Linked DNA regions of Homo sapiens. The protein of the gene in region 2 purifies or fractionates together with the protein of the main gene of each other region. This does not show direct contact. Each region holds a gene or a part of one and is shown on either strand. Other genes may lie near its edges. The genes, in order: COQ8B, SLC2A5, SMIM8, RBFOX3, SLC25A17, ALG1 and FADS3.

Region 1 (4,307 bases), on a different chromosome or scaffold from region 2:
CCTCTCCCTTGCTTCAATCTGTAAATGTTGCCCTTTCTAATTGAGGTCACACCAAGATCCCCCAAAGTCACACCTACCCCCAAAGTTGGCCAAGCGGCTGATGCGGGAGGCAGGCACCTTGCGTTCTCGAGAGCGGTCACTCAGCTGGGAAATGGGGACAAGGTCTGAGGGTGGGAAAGTGGGCATCGTGGCCAGAGAGTGCAGCCACTCTGCCACCACACCCTTCCCCAAGCTCAGGGGGCCAGCAGTATTCGTGGGGTGTTGCTGGGTGGGTGGGGGTAATGATACCTGGGGCCGGGGTGTCTTCCTGGGACGGGCCTCCCGTGCCCTGCGAATGTCCTCCTCACCCAGGCCTCTCCCAGGCCCATCCTGGTAAAACTTTTGGGCCCAAGAACCTCCACATGGTCCCTGCAAGAGATATACTTTGATAAGGAGGGGAGGACATGGGATCACCTGGCCCTTCTGGACCCCTCCTGTCCTTTTACCCTCTGAAGTCTCCCTCAGCCTCTTCCCCTTGGGGACCTGCTCCCTAGCCTCTTACCCAGCGGTGGGGCCCAGGCCCCAGGGCCCCACAAGGCCAACCAACAGTCTGGCCCAGCTGTCCACCGGTCCCCCGAAGTAGGCCCCCCACCTTCAGCCACATTGCCTGGAGGAGAAGAGGAGGGATTATTCAGGTGGGAGTTGCCTGGCTTCTTGGCCAGGCCCCCATGTTCCTCTGTGTCCACCCTCTCTCATTCCCACCCACTAAATACTTCCTCCACTATTAATAGATTCCCACAGTTTCTCCTGGTTCTCCCCTGGTTGCTAGGAACCCTTAGCTCTTCCTGCAGGCCTCCCAAAACCCACTTTCCCCCCTCTCCCAACCCTCGCCGTTGCTAGGGTCCGCCCCCGTTACTAGACACCCACAGTTCCTCAGGGGCTACCTCTCCACTTCTCTGAAACCCCCCTCGTTGCTATGCACCGCCTTCCCCTCTGTTGGCCCTGTAGGCACCCGCAATTCCTCCGGTGTCCCCCCGCCCGATCCCCACCCCGTTACTGAGCACCTCCCCCCGTTGCTAAGCACCCACTGCTCTCAGCCTCCGAGTCCGCAACCTGCTGGGGCCCTCCTGTGCTTCCGGGAGCCTCTGTATGCCCGCCCCCTTCGGCCAGCCAACCAATGGCGCGGCAGCAACTCGCTGACTGGCACGGAGTTTCTCCATCTGTGCGCGGGGGAAGGGGCCAGAGAGAGGCCCTAGCGATGGAGCCTGGAATTAAGGTGGGCATCGGGGGCCCATCTGGGGGGATTGCTGAGGCATCGCGGGAGCGCAAGCGTGCCCTGTCTGCCCTTCCACTCACCTCAAAGTGCCTTGTACGCGACAGACCCTTCTGTTCCCTACACTTTCTTGCAAAGTCTCCCTTACAAACCTGACGCCTCTCTTCTGCACGAATATCTTGCCAACCCCCCTTCTTATTTTTACCCCTGGCAGGCTCAACACAATTCCTTTGAATACACATTCTTCCCAGCAAACATTTCCCTTGCACATGGAGCCCCTCCACTTTGCACAAACACCCACATTCTGGCACCCAACCTCCTTCCTTGTGCATATAAATCCCTTGCCTTGCTTGCCAACTGTTTCCCGCTCACGCCTTCAACTCTCTCGTGTACATACCCTCCCCCCCACTTGCACACTGAGTCTCTGTTCCCTCACACACCCTGTTCTCTCCGCTCCCCGCCCACCTGCGGAATGGTGCGACTGGGAGCCCTCTGCTTCCTGTAGGCCTGACATTTCCCAGAACACACTCAGCCAAGATTCCCAGTGCTGAGTCAGGAACCTTGGCATCCCAGAAAACCACCTCCCATCCTATCTTTCTTTCTCTGTGTGTGTGTGTGTGTGTGTGTGTGCGCGCGCGCGTTGGAAAGCCTGCTCTCCCCACAACAGGCTGACTCACCCACTTCTCACAGTCTGGAATAGAGGCATCTGGTTGGGGCATCTTTCCCACCACTGGGAGAGGGAGGGATGCCGATGCTTCCCCCACAGAACCCCGCTGCCCCAACCCCTCTTGTCGGGAATCAGGCCTCTTTGTCTCTATTCCCGTACTGTGTGACCTCAGAAAAGCCCTCATCCCTCTCTGGACTTCTCCTTCCCAACCTGTATGAGGTACTAGGTGGGCTCCTGCCTTCGATTTCTCTCATTGGTCTGTGAAAAGGTGACTCATTTTAGAGCCTTGGACCTGTGCCCAATGTCTCCCCCAGTTGACTCAATTTCAAGACAAACCACCTCCTCTCCCCCTTCAGAGGTGAACGGCTGACTCAGGAGCTGGGTGGCAGCTCAGCCTTGGGGGCAAAATATATCAAAATCACCTAGGACAATAAATAATCCTACTGGGCTACAACTGACAGTGCCAGGCCCGGGGCCACATGCTTCACATACATGAGATCATGTCAGATAGCCCCGTAGCTGCAAGCAAAGGGTAGAGGCCGGCAGATCTCTGAGCCTCTGTTCTCACGTGTAAAATGGAGCCCTGGCATCCCTATTGTTCAGCCTTGGAGAATGAACTGAAATCGTGTCAGGGTCTGATACAGAACAAGTACTCTATACATGACAGAGATTTCTTACGGAAAATCCAATGGAGCGTAAGTCATTTGCTCAGGGTAGCGGAGCTGGGAACTGGCAGAGGAAGGTCTCGAACCCACACCCGTGGGAACTCCAAGTCTTTGAAAGTCCGTCCCGCCCCTGCGTGAAGAATGGGCGCGCGGCTGGACTCGTCACCGGGGGTTTTAGGGAAGGTTGAACTTGTCATTCAACCGTGTAGGGAGGGTGGTTTAGTCACAGGGGTGGAGGGAGGGGGCCCACTGGCGCGCCACCAGGACCCCGGTGCCCTAGATGCATACCTGGCCGCGCTTCGGATGCTCAGAGGCAAACCCCCTCCCCTTGGGAGGCGGAGTCGGACAAGGCTCCGTCTCGTTCCGTTCCGTCACGTCCGGTGGGGCGGGGCTTCGGGGCTTTCCCCTTTGAGGGGAGTATCGGTTAACCCTTGCGCGGCGGGGCGGGCTGGAGCTCCGCGGGCCGGAACCCGGGAGTCGGGGCTCCCCAGCCACACCCCTCGCGGGATTTAAAGGGATAGGAGGGGCCGGGTCGGCCGAAGCCCGAACCGAAGGAGCGGGCATGAGGCGCTGCCCGTGCCGTGGGAGCCTGAACGAGGCGGAGGCCGGGGCGCTGCCCGCGGCGGCCCGCATGGGACTGGAGGCGCCGCGAGGAGGGCGGCGGCGGCAGCCGGGACAGCAGCGACCTGGGCCCGGCGCAGGGGCCCCGGCGGGGCGGCCGGAGGGGGGCGGGCCCTGGGCCCGGACAGAGGGGTCCAGCCTCCACAGCGAGCCTGAGAGGGCCGGCCTCGGGCCTGCGCCGGGGACAGAGAGTCCGCAGGCAGAATTCTGGACAGACGGACAGACTGAGCCCGCGGCAGCTGGCCTTGGAGTAGAGACCGAGAGGCCCAAGCAAAAGACGGAGCCAGACAGGTCCAGCCTCCGGACGCATCTAGAATGGAGCTGGTCAGAGCTGGAGACGACTTGTCTTTGGACGGAGACCGGGACAGATGGCCTTTGGACTGATCCGCACAGGTCCGACCTCCAGTTTCAGCCCGAGGAGGCCAGCCCCTGGACACAGCCAGGGGTTCATGGGCCCTGGACAGAGCTGGAAACGCATGGGTCACAGACTCAGCCAGAGAGGGTCAAGTCCTGGGCTGATAACCTCTGGACCCACCAGAACAGTTCCAGCCTCCAGACTCACCCAGAAGGAGCCTGTCCCTCAAAAGAGCCAAGTGCTGATGGCTCCTGGAAAGAATTGTATACTGATGGCTCCAGGACACAACAGGATATTGAAGGTCCCTGGACAGAGCCATATACTGATGGCTCCCAGAAAAAACAGGATACTGAAGCAGCCAGGAAACAGCCTGGCACTGGTGGTTTCCAAATACAACAGGATACTGATGGCTCCTGGACACAACCTAGCACTGACGGTTCCCAGACAGCACCTGGGACAGACTGCCTCTTGGGAGAGCCTGAGGATGGCCCATTAGAGGAACCAGAGCCTGGAGAATTGCTGACTCACCTGTACTCTCACCTGAAGTGTAGCCCCCTGTGCCCTGTGCCCCGCCTCATCATTACCCCTGAGACCCCTGAGCCTGAGGCCCAGCCAGTGGGACCCCCCTCCCGGGTTGAGGGGGGCAGCGGCGGCTTCTCCTCTGCCTCTTCTTTCGACGAGTCTGAGGATGACGTGGTGGCCGGGGGCGGAGGTGCCAGCGATCCCGAGGACAGGTCTGGGGTGAGT
Region 2 (3,780 bases):
CTTGGCTCACTGCAACCTCTGCCTCCCGGGTTCAACTGATTCTCCTACCTCAGCCTCCTGAGTAGCTGGGATTACAGCTGCCCGCCACCACACCCAGCTAATTTTTGTATTTTTGGTAGAGATGGGGTTTCACTATGTTGGCCAAGCTAGTCTCAAACTCCTGACCTCAGCCTCCCGAAATGCTGGGATTACAGGCGTGAGCCACCATGCCCGGCCGGTCTCTGCCATCTTGCCCTGACCTGTGGGTTTTCTCTGCAGTGGGCTCAACATTTTGAAAAATACATTCCTAAAAGTTGCCACCAGTAAGCAGGTCCAATCACTTTTCTATTGACCATTAACAATACAGAATTGTTTCCAGCAGAGAAATATTAGGCTCCAATAGATAACAAATCAGTTAAAAATCCCAGCCTTTACTCTAAAGTCAGCAGTTCTCAGTTTTTGGTCTCAGACCCCTTTACACACTTAAAATTATTGAGGGCTCCAAAGAGCTTTTGCTCATGTGGGTTACATTGATCAATATTTACTGTATTAGAAATGGCAACCGAGAGACATATTAATTCATTTTTTAAAATAAGCCTATTACATGAAGAGTGGCCTTGTTTGACATTTTTGCAAATCTCTTTAATGTCTGGCTTAATAGAAGACAGCTGAATTCTCAGATGTACTTCTGGGTCAGGTCAGTTGTGATGTGGCCTGGCAAGAAGTCTCTGGAAAACTCCCATATGCTCATGAGAGAGAGAGAATGAAGAGCAGATATCATCTCTGGATTATTATGAAAATAGTTTTGATCTCACAGACACCCTTAAAAGGTCTCGGGATCCCTGGGTCCTCAGATCACGGCTTGAGAACACTGGCCATTAGGGGCATAATCCATTTGCCAACAGTTTTTCACATACCTCCAGCAAGTCAGCAAAGTGGATCATCAAGCTGTGTGCTGCTTAGACACTCATTTTAAAACCACGCATATGGCCGGGTGCAGTGGCTCATGCCTGTAATACCAGCACTTTAGGAAGCTGAGGCAGTTGGATCACTTGAGGTCAGGAGTGCGAGACCAGCCTGGCCAACATGGTGAAACTCGGTCTCTACTAAAAATACAAAAATTAGCTGGGCATGGTGGAGTAGGTCTGTAATCCCAGCTACTAGGGAGGCTGAGGCATGAGAATCGCTTGAACCCAGGATGGGGAGGTTGCAGTGAGCCGAGATCGTGCCACTGTACTCCAGCCTGGGCAACAGAGTGAAACTCTGTCTCAAAAACAAAACAAACAAACCAACACAAAAATAAAACCACCCATATGAACAAGAACCACATTGCTCACTCTAAAATGAAGTAAACAACTACCTTGACAAGGGGGGTGCCAAGATGAGTATGACTTTTACTGGAACATGCTCACAGTTCACTGATTTGTTACTAATCAACTTCTTGGCAGGAAGACTGAAGGTATTCATTGGCTCAGAGGAATTTAAACTTTTTGTTTGTTTGTTTGTTTGTTTGAGATGGACTCTTGCTTAGTTGCCCAGGCTGGAGTGCAGTGGCACGGTCTCGGCTCACTGCAAGCTCCACCTGCTAAGTTCAAGCAATTCTTGTGCCTCAGCCTCCTGAGTAGCTAGCACTGTAGGCATGTGCCACCGTGCCCAGCTAATTTTTTTGTATTTTTCATAGAGATGGGGTTTCACCATGTTGGCTAGGCTGGTCTCGAACTCCTGGCCTCAAGTGATCCACCTGCCTCAGCCTCCCAAAATGCTGGGATTACAGGGGTGAGCTACAGTGTCCAGCAGGAGGAATTTAAACTTCAAAAGCCAGGCCAGGCACGGTGGCTCATGCCTGTAATCCCAGCACTTTGGGAGGCCGAGGCGGGTGGATCACCTGAGGTCGGGAGTTCAGGACCAGCCTTGCCAACATGGTGAAACCCCGTCTCTACTAAAAATACAAAAATTAGCCAGGCGTGGTGGCGGGCGCCTGTAATCCCAGCTACTCAGGAGGCTGAGGCAGGAGAATCACTTGAACCTGGGAGGCAGAGGTTGCAGTGAGCTGAGATCGCACCACTGCACTCCAGCCTGGGCGACAAGAGCGAAACTCGCATCTCGAAAAAAAAAAAAAGCCACTTTGCTCTGATTCTCGTATCAGAACTGGCTGGCTGGGAGGTCCTAGTGGAGTCATTTTAAAGACAAAAATAGAGATTGCTTTCCACCAACGTACAGGTAACCCCATCTCTTCACAAACCTCCTGAGGTTTGACCCTTTATTAATATCCTTCACCAAGATGCTCTTGCTGCTAAGTGGCTCTTGTTAAGTGGTGAGGACACAGCCTCCCACTTCAGCTCCCAGGAGGCCTTCCTTTCCTCTGCAGCCCTTTGCCCTGGGCCTGTGAGGTGTTGCTCCCTCTTCCCACCTAGACATGCTAAGAGCTGCTTTAAAGACTGCCCCTCTTTGCTCTGCAAATGAGGAAGAATCGATATTAATGAACTGTGATGTCTCTTTTCAAATACTGAGCAGAGACATCTGTGGGTAGAATTGCCAAACAGGAAAACATGGCCTCAGGTACCCTCCTATCTCAGTTCTATCAAATACCCCGCCATCAACAGCAGCTCCAACCTCTGCTCACTCCAAACTCTGTTCCTGAGAGCCTCCCTTCAGAGACCCACGTCCCTGAGCCTCCATTTGACTCAGGATTTGGTACCTGATACTTGGACTAGTGAAACTTCCTCTCCATCCCCAGCCTCTGGATGTGCTTTTAGGAGAATTAAATAGGGCAATATATGTGAAAATACTTTGGAAGCTGCAAAATTAAATTCTGCCTATGTTTTTTTAATTGACATCAGGCAACACGTCATTCTATAAAATAGAGTAAGTTTTCCCTCCACCAGATTCAAGTATGATGGGAATATTTACAAGTTTAAATACTGGGGATTCAGAAGTAGTCCAGGCATTACAGAAATCCCAGAAATGCAGATATTCCGTAATATGTGTTGACATTTTAAATGCTTATAGAGACATATAACTTGTTCTTAAAGGTGTATGAAACTATCTCTGCATTGGTTTATTTACTGTTCCTATAAGGTAAAGCTGGGGGCTAGGGGTCCTGGGCCATACACACATACACACACATACACACATGCCATATATATACATACACATACACATGCCCTATACACACACACACACACACCCAGGCCACACACACACCCACACACACACATATATATACACATACACACACACACACACACAGAGGCCATATATATATATATGTACACACACATGCCATATATATATACACACACACACACACACCAGGCCATGTCCATATACACATACACACACACACACAGAGGCCATACACACACAGACATACACACCATATGTAAATACACACAGGCCATATATATCATGCGCGCGCACACACACACACACATATACATATTTTTAGTGGAAACGGTTCCACTATGTTGCCCAGGCTGGTCTCAAACTCCTGACCCCAAGTAATCTATCCTCCCCACTTAGCCTCCCCAAGTGCTGAAATTACAGGCACGAGCCATCACACCCAGCTGCCTTGCCTTTTATGAAACAGACCCTCCTCAAAAAGCAGAAACGTGAGTGGGTCTAGACTCAGGCCAGGGAGCGGGAAGGCCGTAGATCCAGCTGGCCAGTGTCCCCAGATGATATGGGCCAAAGCAAGGGCCCCTGTGCATGAGCTCCTTTGATCTGTTTCTCTTTCCTTAAAGTATAAAGGGCTAAGAATTAAAAGAGGTGTTTGCTTTCTCCTTTGCAGTTTTGAGAGAG
Region 3 (3,522 bases), on a different chromosome or scaffold from region 2:
ACAGCGTGTGTGTGTGTGTGTGTGTGTTTGTGTGTGTGTGTGTGTGTGTGTGTGTTTTAACCTGAAAGCATCACTTTGCCTCTTAGGGTCTTGGATTGTCCAAGAGTAAATCAAGGTTAACAGCATAATAGCTGTTCCCATCACTAAATTTCTTGAGGTAATGGAGTAGTTTCCCAGAGAAGAGTGTATACATCATCATCATTTCTGTGCCTATTATATAAAAGGTTTTTTGCCAGTTATTCATGACTTGGGCAAGAAGAATAGCATGTCTAGTTCATTCCTCACTTCCTAATAAAATGAACTAATTTGAAGTTTGCAAATGGAGAGACTTGGGCCCAGGACCCAGGAAGTTAAGCAGCTCCTCCACTTCACCCAGATAACATTGAAAACTCCGGGTGCTGACCAGTTTTCCTGCCCCACTCCTTTCCCAGCTGTCACCTTCCTGAGAGTAGAGGTCTGAGATGTCCAGGGTGTAGATGGGAGAAAGCCTGGAGAGGAGAAGCAAGAGTCTTCTATAATCTCTAGATAATCAGTAGCTTAGCTAATTGAATAAAGAACTGAATAAATGATTTTAATTGAAATATTGCCATGGTAATGCTAGTGTTGTAATAAAGATGTGGCATGTCAGGAGGAAAGTGCAACCGATATTTGGGTCTCCTCAAATTGTTAGTCTTACTAAAGCTTTATAATTTTTTTTTCTTTGACAGAACAAACCTGTAATGGCTTTCGGATTGGTAACTCTTTCACTTTGCGTGGCATATATTGGTTATCTACATGCAATACAAGAGAATAAAAAGGACCTCTATGAAGCTATTGATAGTGAGGGGCACAGTTATATGAGGCGGAAAACATCCAAATGGGATTAGTAGTGCTGGTTAGTGCAGATGGACCTTTATTAAAGGTTCTGAAATCTTCAAATGAAAGACCTTGTGAGTGTACAGTATCATGTTTCTTGTTCTAGAACATGCTAATGAAGAGAGAAGATAGCAGTTGCAACCAGACAACTGTCGTAAATTTTGTCCTTTCACAGCTGCAGCCATTATCTCATTCTTTTTCCACAGAGTGAGCGTCATAATATTTTTCTTTCCTTACCTCTTATAAAAGTGCCATGAGAATGGAAGTTGTTTTTGTTAATTATTAAATTCTGTATAATAAAAGTACCCATGCTGTTAAATTTGCATGATGTTTTAAATATTTTAAGATGAATTATGCCGGTGCAGCTGTCGTGAAAGTTTACTTGTGTTTTGCTACTTGCAAAGGAAATGTTCATGTTCTCCCTGGCATAGAACCTATATTTTTAAAGAAAGATAAATAGAAATTTTAAGGCCTGAAGTCAATATTAAAAATATGAGATATGAGAAACTGAGTTGGCTCTGACAAGTAGTTTTTATAGTGTCACAAATGGTTCATATATTTCAGTTTCCATTTTAGCTATTTTTGGGACAGAATTTTATTTTAATGGAAAAGATCCTTCCACTCAGCTACTAAAATAAGGATTAAGAATATCCCAGAGTAATTGGAGTTTTTCTTTAAAAAAAAAAAAAAAGTATGTTTTACTGAGGTATGATGATTTTGACTACAACTAAATGTTATCTATTTTAGTGTTTATGTTAATTAATGTTAATTAATTTTGTTTATGTTAATTTGTGTTAATTAATGTTACTGTAATGTTATAAACATAAGACCAAGTGTTCTTATAGTTATTTAAAAACTACAACTACTCAATGGATAAGGAATAGATAAGGTCTCCTTATTGTACCTTTTTTTTCTTTTGAAGTTTATATGCCAGCAGGCCTTTTTGTTTTTTTCCTTTTCAGAATGTTTCTTATTCTCTGAAGCATCAGCATTTTGAAGTGTCTTTTATGGAAGTGGGGACAGAAATGGGGGTAAAAATGAGTGTAAACAAAGCCTAGCCCTACGGTCAGTACCCACTGGAGGTGAGAAGCAGAATGGCCTTGGTTGTCCTGGCACCTGGCCCAGGGGCCTAGGACAGAGGTCAAGGCTAGGCCCCTGTGTCTGGCCAGATTCTGCCTTATAGAATTCAAATCTTTCTTACAAGGGTTCTGGACCCGTTTCATTTCTAGATATATACCTAATTCTCCAAATCATTGTCATTGGGCCTCAGTAGTAAATCTTACCTCTGAAGTCTTGCTTCAGTCGCTATTAATATTACCAAGTAATAATAACAGCACAGGCAGAGTTTATCATAATGTTATTTTTAATTTGTCATACTTTATTATGGTTTTGTAAGGTACATGAAAATGTAATTATGTGTGATTTGTAGGTATTAAAGAACTTAGCTAATTGAATTTACATGAAACTAAATAAAATCTTTACTACTGAGCCCCAAATATGTATTTGCTATGCCTGTCTGTATAATGTACTTCATATAGTTTAAAATGCACTTCAGTGATACAAAATCCCTTTTAAAGACTCTTTTGTTTTTGTTTTCCCTGTGTATTTTGGCTATCACAAAACTAGGGTTCTTCTGTTTTTAACTTATGCATTTAATGACACATTGCCATCTTTTAGAATTTTTTACTATTCAACAGAATAAGCTGATGTTTGGTGGCAGAGGAGTTATTAGTTGCGTGAACTGTCAAGAGATTGCAGTGCAGGAGGGCAACAGAAACTGTACAAGGTGCAGACTTGAGTCATGTAAGATCTATGTGAATGAACCAAAGTAACTAGAGTCAGTCAAGCACAAAGCTGTGAAAAGTAGTGTGTGGAAAGAATCATACTGAATTTTAGGAACAAGTACCTGACTATGATACTTTTTACAGAGTGACTACAAGTTGTAGGACAGTCTTTGTGTGTGCTGAGTGTCAACAGCTGCCTGCCTATGTGTTGATGTTTTCATCCTTTCTTTGTTGAATGAGGGTATAACCATCAAAAATAAAATACCTTTCAAATAGTCCAAAGATTCTGAACATTGAACTTCACCTGATCCAATCCTGTCAGTTTATGGTTAAGACAATAGGCTGAGAATGGCTAAGAGATTTACCAAAGATCAGGGAGATTCTCAGTCAGGAGTAGAACCTGTATCTTCTTGCTCTAAAGTCTAGGGATCTTTTCACCATACTATACCACCTTCTATGTGTAAATGTGCACATAATAATAAAGCAGCCACATTAGCCCTTAAAAATAAGAAGTTTAGATCTTAAGTAGAGAAACACTCCTGTACTTTAAAACAGAATTATGTAAAGGACTGTTAACTGCCAGCTCCCTCACAAGACCATCAGAACAACCTGATGATCAAACAAAACTAAGCTTATTAAATCTACTGCACTAAAGGGAAATACCACTTTTACAAAGTTAGCTGTATTTAAGAATGGGATGGTCAGGGGAAGATATTAAAGTCTTTTGGAAGTCTGAGTTCAAGTGATTAAAGAAGGGTCTTTCAATGCAGGAATCTGGTTGAGAATGGGCAAGGTACCTGACAGAACAGATTAGATCTTGAAGCAAGTCTTGATTAGTAAACTATTGTTCAATAAATGTTAAGTGAACTCTTTGCCCAGGGGA
Region 4 (4,209 bases), on a different chromosome or scaffold from region 2:
GAGCCCCTACTACCGAGAAGCTCCAAATCCATACTCCCCTCTTCCTGGCCTCTGGGTCTTCCAGGCCCCTACCAAACCCCAGATTCCATGATGTGCTTTTCACCTCACACAGAAAAGCAGGACAGTCAGGTGCGAGGAGGAGGCTAATTGTTCCAGGAGCAGCCTTCAGGAGCAAAAGTGACATGGGGACGGGTTTGGATCTGTTTGTGTGTAATTTGGAAATGTCCTTCGATGGTGCAGGCTCGTTTCTCCAGCCTGGTTGCTGCACCAGAATGTCTTTTGTTTTGGAAATGATTACTCAGCCTCCTGCCTAAACCTGTTTGGGACCGTCCAGACCTTCTTGCCCACTTCTGGTGTTGTGTGCCAGTGGTGGGCTGACCCCAGCAATAGATCTCTCCTGCCTTTCCAGAGGGTCCCCACTCCACTGTGTCCTCAGCCTCTGCTCTCCTGCTCCCTCTGCACCAAGGATAGAGACCCTCCCAGAACTCACACCAGGCCCCTTACTCTAGATGCTGGGGGAGGCTGGGACTGGGGACAGGAGCTACCTGATCTTTTGATTTTAGGGAAATCCTAAGCTGACCTCCCACAGTCCTTCCTCTCCAGCCAGGCACAGGTGGAAATGTTTAAATGGGTTGGGTTGGCCAATCTGGACTAACAGCACGGAGTGGGCCCGATCCCTTCCTTTCCAGTGGTCCTCCAGGAAGTCAGGGCACCTGGGCCTAGTGAGGGGGTTTGGGGTATGTGGGCAACTCAAAGGCATGGCATGGCATGCGGGGTGGGGTGGCATTCGTCCCTGATGCTTGGTGACCACGTCCCATTGCTGGGGATCCCTGGGCCTGGCAAAGAAAAATGGCCCCCAGGGACAGCGAGGCACAAGGGCAGGGGTCCTGTTAAGGGTCACCTGGGTTGATCCGCCCCCAAGATAGCTTGGAGGTGGGGAGGGGCAGCGGGCTTGGGGCTGCCCTTGAAGGGACCAGGGCAGCACTGGGTTCTGGGATCTTCCGTGTGTACCCCACCTCTTCTGTGCCCCTGCCCCGAGGAGTTGGCGCTGAAGGCTGCAGGGTGCTGACCGCCGAAGCCCACCCGGTCATGGCTCTCCCCGCTCCGCCGCCCTCCCCGGCCGCGCGACAGCCAGAGCCCCCTCCCATGCCGCGCGCTGCGCGCTCCGCTCGAGCTGCCACCGCCGCCCGCGCCGCCGCCGCGTGCTCCTGCTGCCGCCTCGCTCCAGCCGAACGAGCCAGAGGAACGAGAGAGAGAGAGAGAGAGAGAGAGAGAGAAGGAGGGCGGAGAGAGAGAGAGAGAGAGAGAGAGAGAGAGAGAGAGAGAGAGAAGGAGGGCGGAGAGAGGAGGGAGGAGAGAGAGAGAGAGAGGAGGCGAGGGAAGAGCGAGCGCGGGGCTGCTCCGAAGCCAGCAGAACCTCCTCGGACAGCGGCCCCAGCCGGGCCCCAGCAGCTCGCGTGGTCGGAGGAGAAGCAGCTGCCACAGCTGCCGCCCGAGCCCGGCCTCGCGCGCCCCTTGCCGCTGGCTCGCCGGTGCCTGTGCGGCCCCAGGACGCCGCTGCCCGCTCGGCGGCCGGGATGCAGCCGGGGCATGGCCGCCGGCCCCCAGTCACCTGCCGCGGGGAGCGCTGAGCCCGTGAGTAGCCTGGCCTCGTCGCCCGCCTCGCTCTGCGGCGGTCATTCCCATCGGGCTGAGCTGGGGGAGGGGGACATGGCCGCGGAGGGGCGCATGGGACCCCGCAGTGGGAGGCGGGCTGCTGAGCGCGGCCGGGGCTGACCCGAGGGCGCGTGGGGTGGGGTGGCGCCCTCGGGGTCAGGGGTCCCTGCGCGGGGTCGGGGTCCCTGGGTCCCTCCGGGGCTGGGGTCTGGACGCTCTGTCCGGCCGTGGGCCAGAGGGGCGATTTTGTGAATGGGAAGGCCCGGGGGTCGGGCTCCATGGAGACGCCAGGGAGTCCCGCGCGCTGCGTGGCGGTGGCAGTGGCGGTGGCGGTGGCGGTGGTGGTGGCTGTGGCGGCGGCGGCGGCGGCACAATGCCCGGCGCGGGGAACTCCCCGGCGGGGGGAGGCAGAGGCGCGCGGAGATCCCGGCCCCGCGGGGCGCGTCCGAGCAGGCAGCCGGAGCCCGCGCGGGTGGGAGAGAGGCTGGCGACCCGGCGGTGGTGCAACGTGCGTCTGTCGCGGCACCCAGGCCCGGAGAGAGCCCTGCCGGGGTCCTCTGAAAGGAGGGTCGCTGAGAGGTTGATGACCCAAAGGAGTTGTGGGGAGGAAGGGGCTGCCACAGCTCCCCAAATAGGAGCGGGGCCCGCAGCACCGCGGTGTGCGCGGGGGCCGAGCAGCGAGGGGCGAGCGGCGCGCAGGGCCCTACAGGGGGCGGGCTGGGGGCGCTCCGGGCCGAGTCCCCAAGCACGATAGGAAGGCTGGAACGGGAGCAGAGGCTGCCTCTCTGAAGCCTCGGCCACCCCCAGGGCCTCGAGCAGCGCGGCCGGGCTGGGAAAGCCGGGCACGCCCCTGGCCCAAACTTTCTGCCCTGGTGGCCCCGGGCGGTGGTGGGGCTCGCCCGGGGCGTGTTGGGCTCGCACGCTCGGGAAGGTGGTCTTCTGTGGCGTCTCGGGGTGGCGCGAGGCCAGTGGTCATTTTGGTGCTGGGGGTCGCAGCCTCCCTCCCCGGGACGCGGAGCCTCCCCTGGCGCGCAGCCCTGCAGTGTCGGTGCGGGGACCGAGACGCGGCGCCCCGCGTGGAGGGGCATTGGGAACCTGTCGGGTCCCCAAGCGGCCCTGGGATCCCTGGTATCACGTAGGGTGGGGGTGGGATGTTCCCGGAGTCCACTGGTGGGGGCGGGGGCCCAGCGAGGTGGGGAGAAACTCCTGGACAACAGAGCTGCCTCCCCCTCCCCTTTCCGTTCCAGCTTTGGCGAGGTACCTGATTTATTTAATGATCACTTTTAAAAAGGAGTCCCGCGGAGCCGCTAGTCCCGACGCGCGAGACACCCCACGGTGGAGGCTAAGGACAGAGACCCAAGGGATCCATCCCTGGGTTTAAGTCCCCCTTCCTGCCCCAGCTGGTGGTGAAGTCGCTTCTCGGGCGCGCAGGTTGCTAATTTCCTGCTCCAAACGCAGGTTGGACTCGGGGACGCCTTGGGCATGCACCCGGGCGCCCCGGGCACTTAGCGTGGAGCAGGTAGGAGGCTAATGGAGTGGGGTCGCCCGTAATGAGGTCTTTCAGCCGGAAGCCGGCTTCGGTTTTACTGGTCTGCAAAACATAATGGAAAAAAAAAGTATAAACATTGCGGCAGAACCTGCTCATTAAGTGTGCATCGCGGATTCGGGACGGATGTCTTAATTAGGCTGCGTTGTTCACGGGGATATTACACTAATTAAAAACCGACCCTCCAGGTGAGCAAAAATTGTGAGGGGAGAGAGGGAGAAAAGTTGTCGAGAAGGCGCTGCCTGATGAAAGCCGGGTATGGGCCTCTTGCAGGGGCGCCCCAGGTCACTGAGCGCCGGCGGGGTGGGGGCGTGGGGGCGGCATGGCGGGGGCGGAGGAGGGGAGCCTTCTTAGAACCATCCCGGCGCGCCTTCCTTCTCCGCCTCCTGCGGGCGAGGAGCTCCCTTTGGCCGAGGACCGAGGCTGGCCCCCCCGCCCCTCCCCCAGGACTGGAGGCCTTCCTGCGTGGGCGCCTCGCTCACCGCTCACCGCACACTCCTGGAAGCAACGCTTAACCCTTCATTTCCTGGCTGACAGCTTCTGGGAGGGCAAGGCTGTCCCCAGGAGGGAGACAGAGCGGGTGACGTGGGGACCACTGAAGGGGTTAAGGAGCAAGAAGCACGGTTGAAGGGACGCACCCAAGCCGAGACAGCCTGGGCCTGGCGAGGTGGCTGCGTGCGTGCGGCAGGGGTTGCCACTGGTGCTGGGCTGTTTGCGCTTGCACGGCCGGGGTTTTCTGGGGTGAGTTGTCCATTTCTAGCAGCTATCCACCCTCCTCCCCCCAAAGAAAAAAGGGAACCTGGGTGATTGCTTTGATCCACCTTCCTCAGGGGCCTGGGGCCTAGAGAGACCCGTGCCCACCCCGGGGACCTCGGGTCGCCTCTGGGTGCCAGGAGGAGCCAGGAGTCCAGGGAAGTCCCTAGGCTCCGCCCCTTACTCGGATGGGCCTTTGCGGCAAATGCTCCGCACCCAGTGACCTCGGTTGGGAGCCACAGCGGGGCTGGGAG
Region 5 (4,399 bases), on a different chromosome or scaffold from region 2:
TATAGCAGGAGTCAGAAAACTATGGCCTATGGGCCAAATCCAATCTAATATCTGTTTTTGAAAACAGTATTTTATTGGAACACAGCTCTGTCCATTCATTTACTGTCTACAGCTGATTTCACACGACCATGGCAATGTTGGGTAGCTGTGACAACGGTACACAAAGCCTAAAATATTTCCCATCTGCTCTCTTTAAAAAGTTTGCCAATCTCTATGTTCTTTTATAGCACTTAACTGTATCTAAAATTATTCTACTTATTTTTTATTTATTCATTTATTTTTTATTGTTTTTTTTTTTTTTTCTTGAGACGGAGTCTTGCTCTTGTCACCCAGGCTGGAGTGCAATGGCACAATTTTGGCTCACTGCAACCTCTGCCTCCCAGGTTCAAGTGATTCTCCTGCTTCAGCCTCCCGAGTAGCTGGGATTACAGGCGCCCACCACCATGCCTGGCTACTTTTTGTATTTTTAGTAGAGACGGGGTTTCACCATGTTAGCCAGGCTGGCCTCGAACTCCTGACCTCAGGCGATCCGCCTGCCTCAGCCTCCCAAAGTGCTGGGATTACAGGCGTGAGCCACCGCACCCAGCCTATTCATTTATTGTCTGACTCCCCTATTGCAATGCATAGTTCATGAAGAAAAAGACCTTCTCTACTGTACTCCTTGCACCTAGAACAGCGTGTGGCACATAGAATGCACTCAATAAAGGTGTTTAATGAACATTTATTGCAAGAAGGAAGAGAAAAACATTTCCCATCTTCTCACTTTCTTCTCTTAGATGCACTCCAACTATTTCCCCCACCACTCCACCAAAACTGGTCTTTTCAATTAACCACTGGATTTATCAACATGATAAATTCTCAGTTATTTCTCAGTCCTCACCTTACTTGACCCATCAGCAGCATCTGACCCAGCTGGTCTACTTCCTTCCCCAGAAACACTTTCTTCACGTGGCTTTCACTCTTAGTTCTTAGCTTCCCTCCTGCAGTACTGATCCATCCTTCGTTTGTCTCCTTTGCTGGTGCAATCTTATTTTCTCGGCCTCTTAATGGTTAGCCTGCTCCAAGACTCAGTCATTGAGATTCTTCTGTCAGTCCATACACACTTCCCTAGTGAGCTCATCTAGTCTCACGACTACTCTTAGGCATTTCAAACTCCTCCAAAACCAAAGCCAAATTTATCATTTCCCCCAAAACCTTCTCCTTCACAGCCTCTGCCATCCCAGTAAATACCACCATCCCTCCAGTTACTGAAGCCAAAAACTCTTGGAGTCAACCAACCCTCATTTTATAAATATATTCCAGGTCAATGATCACTTCTACCATGTCTGCTACCACCCGGATCCAAGTCACCATCATCTCTCGCCTGATAATTGCTTGTCCCCTGTTCCCTTACATTCTACTCTCAACACAGCAGCCAGGGTGATCACGTTTAAAGGTAAATCAGCAAGTTCAACAGCTAGCCAGAGTGAAAGTCTCACACAATTTGGCCCCCTGAAACCTATTTGCCTCTTTGTTCCCTCCACTCCGGAAACACAGGCCTCCATGCCCATCTTAAAGCAAGTCACGCAAGCGTCCATCTCAGCCTTCATGCTGGCTGAAAGGCTCTTCTGGCTGAACTGAATGAACCAGGCTTCCTGAATTAGGCATTTTCATGAAATGCTGTGTCACTTAATTCTCTAAACTCTGTGAGGTAGGTATCACTTCCCCCACTTTACAGATTAAGAAAGTAAGGTTTACAGGGCATCTAGCTAACAAATGATGGAGTTAGGGTTAAATCCAGATTAGTCTACAGAGAAGGTGAGCTCTCAGTGAAGTTTCTGGAGGCTAAACAGAGGATTCAGTGATGTTCCTCTGAAGTCACAGTGATTTTAACAGCTAAAGGTGTGTGCTAACAACTGGTGAAGAATATGAGAAAAGGCAGTCAAAGAGATAAAAGAACCACAAGAGGAGTCACCCAAGCCAAAAGTGGAAAGTTTTAAGGAAAAGAGGGGAGAGGGGAAGTGTCAAGTGGAACCTAGACACCAGAAGCCCAAGAATCAAGCGTATACCTCATAACAAACCACACTTGTGGTAGACAGGAACCCAGATCTTGATTTAGAAAGAAAGAAAAAAAAGCCAGGCACAGTGGCTCATGCCAGCAGTTTAGGACGCCAAATCGAGAGGATCGTTTGAGGCCAGGAATTCGAGACCAGCCTGGGCAACACTGCCAGACCCCAAAAATTTTTTTTAAAAATGTAGCCGGGTGTGGTGGCTCACACCTGCAGTCCCAGCTACTCAGGAAGCTGAGGTGGGCGGATCGCTGGAGCCCGGGAGATCGAGGCTGCAGTGAGTCGTGATCGCGCCACTGCACTCCAGCTTGGGCAACAGAGCAAGACCCTGTCCGGAAAAAAAAAAAAAAAAAAAAGGATCTATCTTCTCCTGCCAATAACGGTGCCCAGAGCTATCCTACTAGGTATTGCCACTTGCCCGCGGCAAGCGTGAAGACAGGCTGTAGGGAAGCATGTGACTAAGCAACACGGCTTCACACCTACGTTCTCCTCCGGGCCAGTAAAGCAAAGTGTGTGAGTGTGCGGTGGTAGCCTGACCTTAAACTTCCCACGGCAAAGATGCGGACCCTGAGCGGGCACGTGTGAACACGGCTCTCTACCCCGCAGTCTCTAGGAGACCAGGAGGTGGCGGAGTCTCGGCCCTTACCCCGAATTCCTCCAACAACTTTCCGCCAATGGCCCATTCCTCTCTGCCCCACAGTCATGACAGTGGACCCCAACCCACACTACCTCCCTCTCAGACCCATCCCTCAGGCATATCCCGGGACTGGCCCCCGAGAAGCCTTATAACCCGTTGCGGCCCGGGCGTAAAGACCCCGTCTCACCACGGCTCCGGCCACGGCGTGGACCAGGCTTTCGTAGGACAGCACGGAAGCCATTGGTGCGGCTCCTCGAAGACCCAGCCACACTTTTCCCACAGATGCCGCAGCCAGTGGAGTTAGGAAAGGAGCACCGGAGCTCAGGGTGTGAGAGTCGCAATCCCCGCCCTCTCAAACCCGCCCGCCTGCCCTAGAACCACTTCCGGGTCGCGGGGCGGGAAAGCGGGGGGGGGGGGGCGGCTAAGAACGCCCCTGAACGCTGATTGGCCCCTGTGGGCGCGGGGCGGGACAGCGAGGTGTTCGCGGGGCTGGGCTCCAAGGCGCAAGGCGGCCTGACACCAGGTACCCGGCTCCCGGTTCCTCCGACGTTCTCTGGCGTTCCCGGGCCCTGACCAGTTCCTCCATCTCAGAAGTCTTAATGGCCTTCTTTTACTCTGGTGACAAAGATGGGGAAACTCAATGAGACTCCAGTCTCCCTGTTTCTCTGCGCCTGAGCTCTTTTCTATTCTGAAAGTCACATTTTGGCCAAGAGGAAAAAAACTCACTTGTGGACTTGGAAACTTCTTCCTCCAGAAAAACCCTTGAGTGTGGTGGGAAGAGATGTTGAGCATCAGGAGCCCAAAATACAAGACGCGAGTGGGAGCCTCCCCCTAGTTGGCAACTATGGAAGTCATTTAACCTCTTGGGTTTCCTCTGTGAAATGACAATGTACTAGTACCAACAATCCCCATCTGCTGTGAGGATTACGAAAGCCAATTTATGTAGTAGTACTTCATAAAATACTGAAGGAAAAAAATTTTTTTCCATGTTGCAAAGTGACTAACAAAATTACACAAAACTAAAGCAGCCACATTCAGCTTTAACCTGTCATACTGTGAGATTCTGCTTCAGGATGCTCCTCAGGGACTCAGGGATTCTTTCCTGAGACACCATCACCACTTGTCTTTACCATGTTTCCTTTTAGAATATCCTCGTGATAACTCCTCAGTGCTGACTACATGCCAGGCTTAGTGTTTTATGCCCATCATCACACTTAATCCCTGGGAGAGGGGTCTAACAAAGTTTAACCTGGCCGTTTTCACAAAATTTGCAGAAGATACTGCTTCCAGGAACATTCCCATCACGCCATAGAATCATGACGTGAAAGTGAAGGACCAAAAGTGAAGCGAAGATGATTTTGGGCTGGGCGCAGCGGCTCAGGCCTGTAATCCTAGCACTTTGGGAGGCCGTAGCGGGCAGATCACTTGAGGTCAGAAGTTTGAGACAAGCCTGGCCCATATGGCAAAACCCTGTCTCTATTAAAAATAGAAAAAATTAGCCGGACATGGTGGCACGCGCCTTGTAGAAATTACAATGTTGAAACTGCAGCTACTAGGGAGGCTGAGGCAGGAGAATCGCTTGAACCCAGGAAGCAAAGGTTGCAGTGAGCCAAGATTGCACCACTGCACTCTAGCCTGGGACAGAGTGAGACTCCTAAAAAAAAAAAAAAAAAGATTATTTTGGCATGGGAACATAGAAACTAGTTGGCTGTAA
Region 6 (3,780 bases), on a different chromosome or scaffold from region 2:
TTGGCCCCCGCTGAGTGGGGGTACCTCTTCTCCCCCATGCTTACCATCACCAGCTGTTGTTAGACCTTTTTAGAATTTGCATTCCAACAGGTGAAAAATGCCATCTCTTTGTTCTGTTTTTTGCCTCCTTGATTATTGATGATCTTGGACTTTTCAGGTTGGTTCTGTTTGTTTGTTTGGTTTTTGTTTGTTTGTTTTAGAGGCAGAGTCTAGCTCTGTCGCCCAGGCTGGAGTGCAGTGGCACAATCATAGCTTAACTGCAGCCTCATCCTCCTGGGCTCAAGTGATCCTACCTCCTCAGCCTCCTGAGTAGCTGGGGCTGCAGGTGTGTCCCACCACACCTGGCTAATTTTTAAATTTTTTGTAGAGATGAGGTCTCACTGTGTTTCCTAGGCCGGCCTTGAACTCCTGGGCTCAAATGATCCTCCTGCCTTGGCCTCCCAAAGTGTTGGGATTACAGGCATCAGCCACCGCACCTGGCCCATTCTGTTTCTTTTATGACTTTTTACATCTATTTTGGTGGTGGAGAGGGTCTTTCTTCTGCTTATTATCAAGAGCTCTGTAAAGATAACAGACTCATCACCATGTGTGTTGTGACTATTTTTACTGGGTTTATTGCCTAGCATGGTCTGGGTTTCCTCCCCTTCAAGTCTCTATCTTTCCTAGAACCCCCCAGGTCTGCCTAGCATTGCTGTCTGCTGGTTCGTGGGCTGCCTTTGTGGAAGCAAGCTCGTCATTGACTGGCACAACTATGGCTACTCCATCATGGGTCTGGTGCATGGCCCCAACCATCCCCTCGTTCTGCTGGCCAAGTGGTGAGAGTCTAGGAAGAGGGTAAAATACCGTCCCCTAAACCACTCAAGGATGAGTGAGAAGAAGGGCCATAGTGGGCCTCCGGAAGTCGGTTCCTTGTGGGCTCTGCAGGAGGTGGGGTGAGGCTGGTGAATCAGGCCGAATGCTGGTTCCAAATGATAGAAACAGGCCTCAGCAAAGGACCACATTTTTTGGCCCATGAAATGGAAGTGTCTGTGGAAATGGTTGGTTTCGAGCTCAGCAGTGTCACTGGGACCCAGCTCACGTCTGTCTCCACACTCCCTTCTGGTGGTGGTTCCCGGAACTCTCCTAGCTCTTGTCCTCACGTAGGCTCATTGGGGAGGGCAGCCCTTTCTGATTGGCTCATGTAGGTTACCTGCCTTCCTCTGATCTGCCTGTTGAGGCCAGGGGGCAAGTGCTCCAGCAGAAGAGCTGGGTCTCAGGAGCATCCATATCTCATGGACAGAGGGTGGGTGAGGGCAGATCCCCAAATTAAAACCCAGGGCTGCTGTTGGTAGCTGGAGAAGTGGGCCACAGTTGCTGCAGCTGATGTGACAGGGAGGGAAGAAGGGCCAGTGGTAGCAGTGGGACGTGGAGCTGGGAAGGTCATCTGCTGTCCTCTGAGCCCAACTATAACATCTCTGTTATACTCTGCACGGCCAGCCTTCAGGTGCACATCCAGCCTCCGTGTGCATGTCCAGCTGCTGCGTGTACTTCCGGCCTTGGGCCATTGGCTGGCTGTGGCCTTCGCCCTGATAGTTTGTTCACTGGCAGTGGTGACAGCAGCAGCAAACAGCTTAGTTGAGCAAATGGAGCAGAATGGTCAATGGTGAGCACCTGCTGCATGCCAGTCCTCCATCCAAGCCCTTTTTGTATTTTACCCTGTTCAATCTCTATGCACCTCAGGAGGGTGTACCTTTTACAAGTCAGGAAACTGAGGCTGAGAACGATTATGCCTCTTGCCACACAGCTAAGTGTGAGGACCAAAATATCCCAGGCAAGCCCATTTCCGAGCTTTCTCTGCATCTTGAGAGGAACAGGCGATGATACCCTGGCGGTGATAAATAACCCAGAATCGCGCATGCCGTGTTCCGGCTCTACCCTGCGATCAGGGCTCAGTCTCCGTTAGGAGAGAATGTGTACAATGCTCACTGAATCCCTTTGCCCCACGTTGAGAGCAAGCCGTGACCTTACAGCCTTTGCAGTGGTAGCACAGGGTGGCTGAGATCGCTAGTGAGGCCTTCATTGTATTTCTTCCTTTTTTTTTTTTTTTTTTTTTTGAGACAGTCTCACTCTATGTCCCAGACTGGAGTGCAATGGCGCCATCTCGGCTCACTGCAGCCTCCGCCTTCTGGGTTCAAGCAATTCTCCTGCCTCAGCCTCCTGAGTAGCTGGGATTATAGGCACCCACCACCACGCCTGGCTAATTTTTGTGTTTTTAGTAGAGACAGGGTTTCACCACGTTGGCCAGGCTGGTCTCGAACTCCTGACCTCAAACGATCCACCTCCCAAAGTGCTGGGATTACAGGCATGAGCCACCGCGCCTGGCCTGTATTTCTTCCTTTTACAGCAAGAGAGAGGATGTTCACTTTGGCAGTGATACACAGTGTCCTTCTATTTATTTTTTTAAATTTGTATTTATTTATTTATTTATTTGAGACGGAGTCTTGCTTTGTTGCCCAGGCTGGAGTGCAGTTTCCTTTTAAAGTGATTGTATTTAAGCCAACAAGTGACACAACATAAAGGAGGGTATATACAGCATAAAGAAAGAACACTGGCACAGCTGGGGCTCAGGGAGCTCAAACTCTCCCAGCTCTGCGGCCTTTTCTCTGTTGAGGGATGTCGAGTCACGCTGTGGTGGTAGCGGAGGCCTGTCTAGGGCTCTGCTGACTGCTGATCTCTCTTTTCAGGTACGAGAAGTTCTTTGGGCGCCTGTCCCACCTGAACCTGTGTGTTACCAATGCTATGCGAGAAGACCTGGCGGATAACTGGCACATCAGGTACCATGGCCTGGGATGACGGCGGCCTGGGAGAGGCGCGGGGCCCCTGATTGGCTGCAGTGAGAGCTGCCTTGCCTGCTGCCGTCCTGCTGAGGGGCAATTTGAAATACTGAGGGCCTGGGAGGTGGTCTTTGGTTTGGGGAAGCTGGGGGAGGAGGGGGCAGAGTTTCTTTCTTAGCCAGCCAGGGGGTCCAGGCAGTTTTGGTCCTAGGACGTCTCTCTGTGCATTCCCAAGTAATTGCAAGGCTTCTTCTTGTCATCATCTGAGACTTGGATTCCCCAAGCGTCCTTCTTTTCCTGGAGCCTCTGAGTCCTCTGTTCCTGAGGCCTTTCTTCAGCCCTCCCAATAGCCCCGTCATGATTTCATTGCAGGGCTGTGACCGTCTACGACAAGCCCGCATCTTTCTTTAAAGAGACACCTCTGGACCTGCAGCACCGGCTCTTCATGAAGCTGGGCAGCATGCACTCTCCGTTCAGGGCCCGGTAGGCCTCCCATCCTCAGCTGCCTTCTCTCCTGCTCGCCACTGCCCTGGCCTCTCCCCTTCTCACTGCAGACCTGGGAACCCACTCATCCAGGGGTTGGCAAACTAAGGCTACAGGCCAGTCTGCTGCTTTTGTAAATCAAGTTTCACTGGGACACAACACACTCATTGCCTTCTGAGTTGTCTACAGCCGCCTTTGAGCTGCAATAGCAGAATCGCGTTTTGCAACAGAGAACCTGTGGCCCGCAAAGCCTGAAGTATTTACTCTCTGGCCCTTTAAGAAATGTTTGTGGACCCCTGCGCTGTCTTACTCTCCTGCCAGTGGCTTCCCAGGCCTGTGGCAGGATCTGTGGACCTGTGTGTCCCCTGGGGTGTCTCATGGGGCTAAGGAGGGGACCTTTGTGCAGGTCTACGCACCCTGAGGTGTGCCCTGGGTAAGCTGGGGTGGTGTGGGAGGGCGTCCCTGCACCCTCATCTTGAGTCCA
Region 7 (3,780 bases), on a different chromosome or scaffold from region 2:
TTGGGGCCAACTGAGCCACTCTAGGCTTCCAGGGACCAAGGCCAGGCTGAGCTGTCTCTGTATCCTGAGAGAGCATGAACATCACAGAAGATGGGCCCGGGTTCGAATCCCAGCTCTGCCACTACTAACTGGGACCTGGGCAGGTGTCCCTTCCCGCTGAGCCTTCATTTCCTCACCAGCAAAATGGTTCGTGCCCCTGCTTTGGGGGCTGTGGAGGGTTGGCTCTTGTCTACTTGTTCATACCTGCTGTTGAGCAGCTGCTCTGTGCCGGCCTCTGAGGATGCCACTGTGAACAGAGCCTGTCGCTACCTCCAGGAGCTTGTGTTTAGGGGTGCCGTTTTGATTCCAGCACTTTCACCCAGCTCTGCTCCGGTACCCGATGAGAGACGTCGAGTGCCGCTTTCCACTCGCTTGGGTGCGTGTGGGGGTTGGGGGGACAGGGCTTTGTGCACGTACCCCTGGGTGGATGTTCCTGGGTGCACTTAGGGTGTGTGAGGGTGGGACCTCCCACAGTTCCCTGAGGCTCCACTGATGAGGTCCAAGAACCGCCTTCCTGCCCCCCAGCCCAGGCTCCCAGCAGCTGGGCCCTTGGCTTCTTGAGATAGTGACTGGCCTCACGGCAAGGACCCCCGCACACCACCTAGGAGAACTGCTGCTTCCCCTCTGTTCCAGGAGTGGCGACAAGCACAGTTTTTCGCTTTTGTTTTTGTTTTCTTCACTTTAAGTTCCGGGAAACGTGCAGAATGTGCAGGTTTGTTACATAGGTATACATGTGCCATGGTGGTTTGCTGCACCCGTCAACCCCTCATCTAGGTTTTAAGCTCCATATACATTAGGCATTTGTCCTAATGCTCTCCCTCCCCTTGCCCCTCACCCGCCCAGTAAGCCCCGGTGTGTGATGTTCCCTTCCCTGTGTCCATGTGTTCTCATTGTTCAACTCTCACTTATGAGTGAGAAGAGACCTGGACTCTGATCTAACCTCGGTCAAATGGAACTGTGTGACCTTGAAGAAGTAGCTTAACCTCTCTGAGTCTTAGCTTCTGCCTGGCACCCCCATCCTTAAGGAGAGGCCCACAGAGGACCAGGTCACATGACCTCAGCCAGTTCCAGAGAAGGCTGTTTGCTTCCAGGTTTCGGCCTGAGTCCAGGCCCCTGCCCTACTCGCACTCCCTGATAGCATGAGAAGCACAGCCCCAGGGTGCCCACCCAGCTCTGAGAGCCCAGCCTGCTTCCCAGGGAACTGTCACAGCCCCACCTGTCCCTTCCCCAGCTGGAGCCCTGTCAATGGCTTTGGGGTTCTCTGACACAGCCCTGAGGGGGCTCACACTTCCCCTTATCATTGCAAGGGGTAGATCTGGCTTGAAGGCCCTGGGGCAGGCTTGGTTCTGTCCTCCCCTGTCAGTGCCTCGACAGGGCTGGCCTGGGTGAATCAGGACCAACGGGAAAGGAGGCGAGGAGACCAATCTGGACCCAAGATCCTCAGCTCAATAAGGTGGCCCCAGAACTGACATGGGGTGATAGAGGGAAGGGCTGGGAGGGAGGAGATTCTGGGGCCGCAGCCACAGCTTGCACGTTGCGCCGGGTGTGTCTGTGCGTGCCAGCTGCATCTTTGCGTACCATGTGTGCAAGGCTGTGTTTGGCTGAGTGTTCATGTGGGCCGTGATTGTGGGCATGTTTCTGAGTGTCTGAGTGATGCCTGCTGGTGTGGGCTGGTGGGTGTGTCTGCATGTGCGTGTGTGTCTGGGGAGTTTCAAAGGAGAAAGAGGGACTCACCATCACGCTGGCTCAGCCTTAAAAAGGTAGGACATCCTGACACGTGCTGCAACATGGATGGACCTTAAGGACATTGTGCTGAGTGAAACAAGCCAGAGGCAAAGGAACAAACATGTGATTTCTCCCAGATGAGGTTTCCGGAGGAGGCAGATCTGTATGGACAGAAGGTAGCATGGTGGTTGCCGGGGCAGGGGGAGGAGAGAATGGAGAATTAGTGTTTAATGGGGACAGAGTTTCAGTTGGGGAAGGTGAAAAGGTTCTGGAGCTGGATGATGGTGATGGTTGGACAACACTGTGCATGCACTTAATACCACTGAGCTGGACACCTAAAAATGCTTACAATGGTAAATTTCATGTATATTTTACTACAATTTTTAAAAAATTGGCTGGGCGTGGTGGCTTATGCCTGTAATCCCAACACTTTGGGAGGCCAAGGCGGGAGGATTGCTTGAGCTCAGGAGTTCAACACCAGCCTGGGCAATATGGTGAAACCCCGACTCTACGAAATATACAAAAATTAGCCTGGTGTGGTGGCTTGCACCTCTAATCCCACCTACTCAGTAGGCTAAGGCACAAGAATCTCTTGAACCTGGGAGGTGGAGGTTGCAGTAAGCCGAGATCATGCCACTGCAACCCAGTCTGGGCGACAGAGCAAGACTCTGTCTCAAAAAATAAAAGATAAATAAAAAAATTAGAGGCCAGGTGTGGCTCACACCTGTACTCTCAACACTTTGGGAGGCTGAGGTGGGAGGATCGCTTGAAGTCAGGCATTTAAGACATGCCTAGGCAACATAGTGAGACCTTGACTCTACAAAAAAATTCAAAAGTTAATGAGACATGGTGGCATGTGCCTGTAGTCCTAGCTGCTGGGGAGGCTGAGGTGGGAGGATCACTTACGACCAGGATTTCAAGGCTGCAGTGAGCTGTGATTGCATCACTGCACTCCAGCCTGGTGACAGAGTGAGGCCCTGTCTCAAAAAAATTTTTCAGTGTTTTTCTGGGCTGGGCGTGGTGGCTCATTCCTGTAATTCCAGCACTTTGGGAGGCTGAGGTGGGTGGATTGCTTGAGCCCAGGAGTTTAAGACCAGCTGGGCAACATGGCAAACCTCATCTCTACAAAAAATAAAAATAAAAAATTAGCTGGGCATGGTGGTGCACACCTGTACTAACAGCTACGAGAGAGGCTAAGGTGGGAGGATCACCTGAGCCCGGGAGGTTGAGGCTGCAGTGAGCCATGATTGCACCACTGCACTCTAGCCTGGGCGATACAGCAAGACCCTATCTCAAAAAAAAAAAAAAAAAAAAAAAAAAAAAACACCCAGTGGGGTCAGTAGAACCCCAAGAGTCTTCTTCCCTCCCAGCTCCCCTGTACACCAGCCCCAGCTCTGCAGGTAGCTGGGGGCCCAGACAGCTTCCTGGGGACCCCCAGCCTTCCCTCTGCCCTTTTTTCTACCAGTTTTGCTGCCCCTCCTTCAAGACTCATGTCCAGAGGGGGTGAGATCTGCACTTATACAGCCCCCTCCTCTGTAATGAGTGAGCCAAGTCAGCCCAGGTTATTCCAGAAGGGGCACCCTACCAGCCCCCCAGTCCCCAAGCTGCCCTGGGCCTATAAAAGCAGGCAAGGGGACCCCTAGTAGATCATGTAGGTGTTACCTCTTAGTGGGTGCTGGAGGGGCCTGAAGTGCTTTCTTCCCCCAGGGTGGTAGGAGAATGTCCTGGCAGTGACTTCAGGGCCCGCTGTCACTTCCGTTTTAAGACTCACCAGCTGGTAGGCTCATTAGCAAGAGGACAATAGGAGGCCCCTGTCCTCAGTCAGCTTTCTTCAAAGGTGTTTCCTTTAGCAACTGGGAGGCCTCCCTTCTCCAGACCCATGGGGACAACACCACCCAGCTACTGGTTCTATAAGCTGCTGTATGGCTCTGGCTAGCCCATTCAGAGAAAGCCTCTGAAAGTACAAGGAAAAAAATCAGTCCAAGAGCTGTGAACAATTAGTGAGCCGATTACAAT

What was found.
Region 1: the proteins of SLC2A5 (region 2) and COQ8B purify together in Homo sapiens (affinity purification with mass spectrometry; one large-scale study listed by BioGRID and IntAct). This does not show direct contact.
Region 3: the proteins of SLC2A5 (region 2) and SMIM8 purify together in Homo sapiens (affinity purification with mass spectrometry; one large-scale study listed by BioGRID and IntAct). This does not show direct contact.
Region 4: the proteins of SLC2A5 (region 2) and RBFOX3 purify together in Homo sapiens (affinity purification with mass spectrometry; 2 studies listed by BioGRID and IntAct, with this or other methods). This does not show direct contact.
Region 5: the proteins of SLC2A5 (region 2) and SLC25A17 purify together in Homo sapiens (affinity purification with mass spectrometry; one large-scale study listed by BioGRID and IntAct). This does not show direct contact.
Region 6: the proteins of SLC2A5 (region 2) and ALG1 purify together in Homo sapiens (affinity purification with mass spectrometry; one large-scale study listed by BioGRID and IntAct). This does not show direct contact.
Region 7: the proteins of SLC2A5 (region 2) and FADS3 purify together in Homo sapiens (affinity purification with mass spectrometry; one large-scale study listed by BioGRID and IntAct). This does not show direct contact.

What each region holds. Positions count from the first base shown.
Region 1 is NC_000019.10:40,713,990-40,718,296, forward strand, and holds the start of COQ8B (atypical kinase COQ8B, mitochondrial), read right to left. Parts: upstream 2,898-4,307; 5' UTR 2,598-2,897; intron 1,131-2,597; exon of another isoform or gene 1,064-1,130; intron 647-1,063; 5' UTR 644-646; coding exon 542-643; intron 409-541; coding exon 289-408; intron 145-288; coding exon 78-144; intron 1-77. Other genes in the region: ITPKC (inositol-trisphosphate 3-kinase C), read left to right, coding at 3,147-4,301.
Region 2 is NC_000001.11:9,042,042-9,045,821, reverse strand, and holds part of SLC2A5 (solute carrier family 2, facilitated glucose transporter member 5), read left to right. Parts: intron 1-3,780. UniProt on the Homo sapiens protein: Functions as a fructose transporter that has only low activity with other monosaccharides. Can mediate the uptake of 2-deoxyglucose, but with low efficiency. Essential for fructose uptake in the small intestine.
Region 3 is NC_000006.12:87,339,409-87,342,930, forward strand, and holds the end of SMIM8 (small integral membrane protein 8), read left to right. Parts: intron 1-707; coding exon 708-866; 3' UTR 867-1,817; coding exon of another isoform or gene 1,818-1,913; 3' UTR 1,914-2,921; downstream 2,922-3,522.
Region 4 is NC_000017.11:79,608,252-79,612,460, reverse strand, and holds the start of RBFOX3 (RNA binding protein fox-1 homolog 3), read left to right. Parts: upstream 1-1,409; 5' UTR 1,410-1,635; intron 1,636-3,299; exon of another isoform or gene 3,300-3,390; intron 3,391-3,847; exon of another isoform or gene 3,848-3,943; intron 3,944-4,209. UniProt on the Homo sapiens protein: Pre-mRNA alternative splicing regulator. Regulates alternative splicing of RBFOX2 to enhance the production of mRNA species that are targeted for nonsense-mediated decay (NMD).
Region 5 is NC_000022.11:40,816,323-40,820,721, forward strand, and holds the start of SLC25A17 (peroxisomal membrane protein PMP34), read right to left. Parts: upstream 3,025-4,399; 5' UTR 2,927-3,024; coding exon 2,873-2,926; intron 1,056-2,872; exon of another isoform or gene 881-1,055; intron 1-880.
Region 6 is NC_000016.10:5,074,722-5,078,501, forward strand, and holds part of ALG1 (chitobiosyldiphosphodolichol beta-mannosyltransferase), read left to right. Parts: intron 1-666; coding exon 667-815; intron 816-2,723; coding exon 2,724-2,813; intron 2,814-3,185; coding exon 3,186-3,296; intron 3,297-3,780. UniProt on the Homo sapiens protein: Mannosyltransferase that operates in the biosynthetic pathway of dolichol-linked oligosaccharides, the glycan precursors employed in protein asparagine (N)-glycosylation.
Region 7 is NC_000011.10:61,881,407-61,885,186, reverse strand, and holds part of FADS3 (fatty acid desaturase 3), read left to right. Parts: intron 1-3,780. UniProt on the Homo sapiens protein: Mammals have different sphingoid bases that differ in their length and/or pattern of desaturation and hydroxyl groups.